Regions from separate parts of the Homo sapiens genome. Here region 1 is linked to region 2. Evidence: fine-mapped expression QTL. Tissue or cell type: gastroesophageal junction. Region 2 holds a variant in brackets; the other region holds the start of a gene. All regions are shown on one strand. Distances are between the middles of the regions. Region 1 holds the start of ADRA1A (adrenoceptor alpha 1A). Region 2 overlaps ADRA1A (adrenoceptor alpha 1A).

Evidence for each region. PIP is the estimated chance that this variant, and not a neighbour inherited with it, causes the effect.
Region 1: it holds the start of ADRA1A, and the variant in region 2 is fine-mapped to the expression of ADRA1A in gastroesophageal junction (GTEx, PIP 0.96).

What each region holds. Positions count from the first base shown.
Region 1 is chr8:26,865,712-26,868,623 of GRCh38, forward strand. It overlaps ADRA1A (adrenoceptor alpha 1A), which reads right to left and starts at 1,567. Exons shown (of 3, transcript NM_000680.4): 1 at 1,225-1,567. RefSeq lists an enhancer at 1-788.
Region 2 is chr8:26,829,454-26,832,365 of GRCh38, forward strand. All of the region lies in intron 2 of ADRA1A (adrenoceptor alpha 1A), which reads right to left. Among named protein-coding and RNA genes, the nearest start is that of ADRA1A, 36 kb to the right of the region's middle. The variant G/A (reference allele first, on the strand shown) is at 1,856.

The sequences.
Region 1 (2,912 bases), 36 kb after region 2:
TGTGCTGAGCTTGACGGGTTGGGGGACACCAGTTGGGAGCCGGGTTGGTTCTGCGGTCCAGAAGCTGCTTCGCCCGGCAGCGGTGGAGGCGACTTCGGAGCTCATCTCGCGCCCCCACCACTGGGAACCTGCCTAGCGCACTCTACTGAGTCACCTCTGCCCGAGTTCAGGATCCGAAGCGAAAAACAAACAAAAAAACAAATCCCCAAAACCCCAGGCTCCAGCGCTCGAAGTCTGGATTTCGAGCGCAGGTACCACGAAATTAAAATCCTCGAAGCCCCGGAGGGGCGACTGCGGCTGGCGAGTGTGTCGCACGGATCCTAGCCGGGGAATTCTGGAGGATGTACTCGGTTTCCGTTAGAACAGGTTGCCTCGCAGTCACCTGGAGGGGGCGGCCTGGGAGAGGGAACAGCTGCGACCCAGGGACCTCAGGGCCAGGACCACGAGCACGCTCACTCTCACGCCGGTGGAATTCGCACTCGGGTGTGCAGAGCGCACCGGTCTGTCCACCAGCCAAGCTGGCTTGAGAGCCAGGTCCCGAGCGAAGCCGGGAGGGACCCGAAGACAGAAAGCGACCCAGGTCTGTCCACGACGCCTTTCCAAGCCTCACTGTTGGCCACCCGAGGGGCTCCAGCTGCCAGCCGTAGCGGGACTGGCGGGGGACGGGGTGGGGAGGACGTCCCTCTGCAGAGGGAGCTTTGCAAGTGACAGTCACTGCGGATTTTGCAGGCGTAAACATTAAGCCGGCATGCCAGCGGGCAGGGGCCGCCTTCGATTTTCTGGGCTGGGGGCCACCATCTGCGTAAGAAACCTGGGTTTCCACAACTGCGAACCTACCGCAGGGACTCGGCAGGACAGCGCGGCGTGAGGAAGTGCCCACCTTGCCTTCTGGGGTTGGGCCCTGAGGTGGGACCTCGGGCAAAGACTCTTGTTAAAATCGCAAGTTGGAGACCTCACAGGTGGTATTAAAAACGTGCCACTGCAGAAACCCTTTTCCTCCTACCTCGAGGGTGATAAACACAGGGTTAAAAAGACACTTGTTCAGTAGAAGGCAACTTCGCAGAAGATGTAAGGGAATCGGGGGTGGGGTAGAGGGGCCGGTATAAAACCTGGTGGAAAAAGCGGGAGGCGCTGGGAAAAGTGGGGGTTCCGTCTCACCAGACGGCGGGGGAGGTCTGCCCTCACCCACTCGGCCCTGCGGGACGCCGGCCCCGGCGCACTCACCTGAAGCGCCGCTGCTGAGCCACCAGCTCGCGCGCGGGGGATGTGGACCCGGCTTCGGTCCCGGGAGCTGCCTGCCTGCTCTTCTCTGGAGGCGGAGAGGGGACCGTGTCTCCGAGGCACCAAATCCTTGTCCTTTTGCACCCGCTGACTCACCCCTCCACCACTGATGTCTTTAAGCTCCTGAACCGCTGTCACTTTACCTGCATTTTTTAAAAAGAGTCAAAATAAGAAAAGAAAAAAAAATGCAGATAACCGGTAACTCCACAATCACCCTTTTAATATTCAGCTCCCCGACACCAGAAAAGAATAGCAAGGAACTTTGCAGCTCTCGCTGACGTAACTCAGGCAGTAGCCCAGCTAGTACCGTAATCTCCTGCTGCTACCGTATTACTCTACGGCAACAGGCACAAGTGCGTATACAGCTGTAATGTTTTCCTCTGGCCTAGAGGGGGTTGGGTTCTAGCGTTTCTTTAAAAAGGTTTGTGTGTGTGTGTGTGTGTGTGTGCGCGCGCGCGCGCGCGTGTGTGTGTGTAGAGTCATTTGTAGTAAATAACTTCTTTAAATGAGCTTTTAAAAATAACGAAAAATTGACACCCTTGCTAGATATTGCTGTGTGTATGGTGTGTTCATAGGAATGTGCTATAAAGTAACTTTGAACAGCTTGATTTGATTAACATTTGGCCTAGGTTTTGTTAAGATCAAGAAGTATATTAAGAATATTGTAATTCTAAATATGCAAGTAAATTATAAGGTGTTTTAAATAGCAAGTAAAATCAGATAAAATATGACAAATCTGATTGTAATGAAATTATATTTTCAGGAAGATAAAGTGGACATATCTAAACCTTATTTAATATGATTCACTTCTAATTTCTTTAGACAGATGAATTTTAAGAGCATTATGGCCACAGAGTTTGGTATTTTTTAAATGCCACACAATCTTTTCCAGTTTTCTTGAGAAAATGGTATCCTTTCAGGAGTGTTACTCTCTTTAATTCATTAATAGCTGGAGTATGAAAACCTAGCACCACCAGTCTTATTACTTTTTTTCTGGTAAATTACATAATCTGTTTACCTTGTGATTGAATAAAGTCACATGTGTTTCAGAATATCGGGAACATAGAAAAATGTTTCCCACTCCAATTCCCACCTCCTAAGTCATCTTTCATCTTTATTGATGCAGACAAAGTGGAATGTTCTTATTTACTAGGTCTCCTTAAACCTAGGAACAAGGAGATAACTTTAAGCAGTGGCACTTAAATTCTCTCCTGTGAACAAAATCATATTAATATGATTACCTTTTCTAAGTGAGATAATGTTTGGGAGGCTCTTTTATAGCAATAAATCTCAAAATGCCTCAGAGGAATGCCCATGAGAGGGTCAGTAAATCCTATGTCATGGAAGACCTAATATATGTATTTATTTCTCTATTGTATACAAAGTCCTCCACCTCTGCCTCATACCTGTAGGGATAGAACTCACACCTAACACATTTGATTTGAATTTAATATATTTTTAAAACTGAATTTCGTGCCATAGGAGGAGCATCCTGGTTGAACAGACAGCTCCACTTCTCATTACTAAGTCACCTGCTCTCTCTGGGATTCAGTCCCCTTAGGAGGAAGCTTGACCTCAATTCCCTGCACTTCTAGTACTTTATCATCAAATATGTGTATAATGTCTGTGCT
Region 2 (2,912 bases):
TATTTTTAATAAATATGTCATTCTAATAGAATTTTCCTTGGTACTTAAAATTAGATTATAAATTTTACCCTTAGGAAAAAATATAGTTAGGAAAAAGAAGGATGATTGAATGAATGACGAAAGGAAAAATAACAAGTGAATAGTCGGTAATATGATAATATGATAACATGCTTAATCACCTCTCAAAGAAATACAGCTCCAAGTTACATAATCCTGGATTCCACATCTGGAAACAAGGAGCACTCCCTGTATTTGGAGTTTATTATAAATATAGGCAGAAAGGCTGCAATGGAATTCAGAAGGACAACCCAGTAGAAAATTGAAACCTGGAAAAAAAAATCAGCAATTCCATAACACATCACTTATAGACAGCCCCACGCTGCCCCTGGTAAGTTTTTGCAGAAGAACATGAAAATCCTTAGCTAAGGTACAAACAAGCCAAGTAGAGGTCAACACATTTGGGAAATAGTGGCTCCACACTCCTAAATGTCAAGGGTGTGTGTCTGGGGGGTGGGGGTGGGTGGGGAAGGATTGTGGTATTTCAGGGAGAAGGAATGTCGGATGTTTGAAGACAGCACTAAGTGTATATTAGAGTGAGCACTGTCCTGGGCCTCTAATGGACTCCATTCTGAGATCTGTGTCAGAACTGTCAATAACCCAGCCTAGCCCAAAACTGTTAATGTATCACCTCCCACCCAGAGCTGACCCTGCTTCTCAGATTGCTTCCAGGCAGGTCCCCTGCAGAGAAAGCCGAAGGATGGGTAGACACACAGGACTGGTATTGGAAGAGATGCTTCATGGTTTATTTCTTCTGCACCTGCCCTCAAAGCTTGAAGGCAGCTCTTGAAACCCTTATTTCCAAGAAAGGGGAGGAACTTGGCTGTGGTATTATGATGCTCCCTAAGATCTTGCAGTCTGAAAGCTGGCTTGGAGCCTTGTTTTCTTCTGCCATCTCCAGAATCCCAAATGTACTAATCAAGACTCCCTTGTTCGTTCTAGGATAACACATGACTGGACCACAGGGAAATAAATGGCCATGAAAAGATGACACCCTGAAGCCAGACAATATTCTCCTAACAAAGAAAGGGGAAGAGTTAACAGAGGGTTAAACCAAAGACGGTTTGGCTAGAGAGACAGCATAGTTGAACCTTCTCATCAGTTGTGGCTGTAACAAGAATTTGCAAAGATGAAGGTTTATTTAAGGAATTAACCAAGAAATAAGCTGTTCTACCCACAGTCATCACAGCTGCCAAAACTCAAATTATTTTCTTACCCTGAGATGATCCTAGGGGAAAGCATGATTCAAGTTCTACCAGAGTGTCAACTACTCCCTCTGGGCTTGTGTTAACTCTTTTGGAATATTAAAATTGTTTCTGTAGCCTGCCAGAACAAAGCTGGGTTGTTGCAGTAGCCTCCCAGATGAGGTTAGGGTCATTGCGGGCGGGAGGGAGTCTTTCTCACCTTTTTTCTTTTTATCTTATATACACAAAGTTAAATGACTGGATGAAAGCCCCAGATACTGGTCTGTAGAAGTGTCTTTGTTCTCATGGATGCACTGTTACTTCCTGGACTTTGGGGGACTGAGGTCTTTTATAGTTAAAGAAATATACTTAGGAGATTGGCCTGGTTGGGGCTCTGCCATCACAGTCTCTGGAGCTGTAACCTAATCACATATCCTTGGCAGCAAAGGCAAGATCCCCTGCTGACTTGTCAAACTCTCATATGGATGTTAAGAAGATTAAGATAATAGCATGCCTAACATAGCTAATAAGAGAGATTTAAAACAATTGGCAGAAACAGATTGAGTTATGAAATGCTTATTATGGATGATTCTGTGTCACAAAAACAGCATATA[G/A]GGTCAGCTTAATTTCACACACAAGTAAGGGGAGAAGAGATGCCAATGATGACGAGGCAGAGAGAGAGAGAGAAGGAGAGAGAGAAAGAGAGAGAGCCTGCTATGCCATGGCCAGTGCTCAAGTGGGCAGACTGATACTGAGCTCTGCTGGGATTGCCCAGTACCAACCCCCTGCCCACACCCCACCACTGATCATGGCCAGTTTGGAAAGGGTGTAGAGGTCACGGAAGTGTCAGGTCACACCCAATGTCCTAGACACTGGAGGAGGTACATCTGTGTCCAAATATCCTAAATAGATTTTCCTAAATTTGAGAATAGTCACTTCAATCTTTCTTCTTTCCAGCCTGGGTAGATCAGCCACATGCCAATTGTCTTCTTGTTTTCTTTCCAGGACAAGAAGAACATAGTTTCACTCGCAGGGAATGAAGGACCCTTTTGGGCCTTGGGGGGAACACGCTGCATGCAGCTTCCTTTCCATCCTTGCATCTTCTTTGCTGTCTAGTGCTCCTTGTCATGGTCTCTGGGGCTGTCAGCAGCCACCGCCCCTGCGCTGTGGGCTCCCTGCCCTGTGGAGTCCTGTGCTCCAGGCTGGCTCCCACCTCTCCCTAAGAGACACCTGGGCCTGGCCGTGTGGTTTGTAGGCTGGAGTGGGGACAGAGGCCTGCTGGTCTCACCCCACATTTCTCATCCATTTAGAGGAAGGAGCCATCTGAGAATCCAGGGACGCTCCTCTGGCCCACCAGCCTTCTCTTCCCCCTCCCAATCTCCCCTTCCTTTCACAAGGGAAGGGAGGAGATTCGGTTTGCAGCGAGAAATGTTGAAGTTGGGAACGAAGTCTTTGGAGTGGATTAGCCCTTTGATCTTCAGGTGGGATCTCCAGGTGGGACGCTCATGGTGAGAACAAGCAGCAGGCTGCTCTCCTGCCTTGCTGGTGAAACCCTGTCCCAGACGCCTGAGAAAGTGACCTGGCAACATCGTTAAAATTGCAAGCACGCATTCCCTTTAAACCAGAAATCCCCCTCTTAGGAATCTCTCCCATAGAAGTAAAAGCATCTAG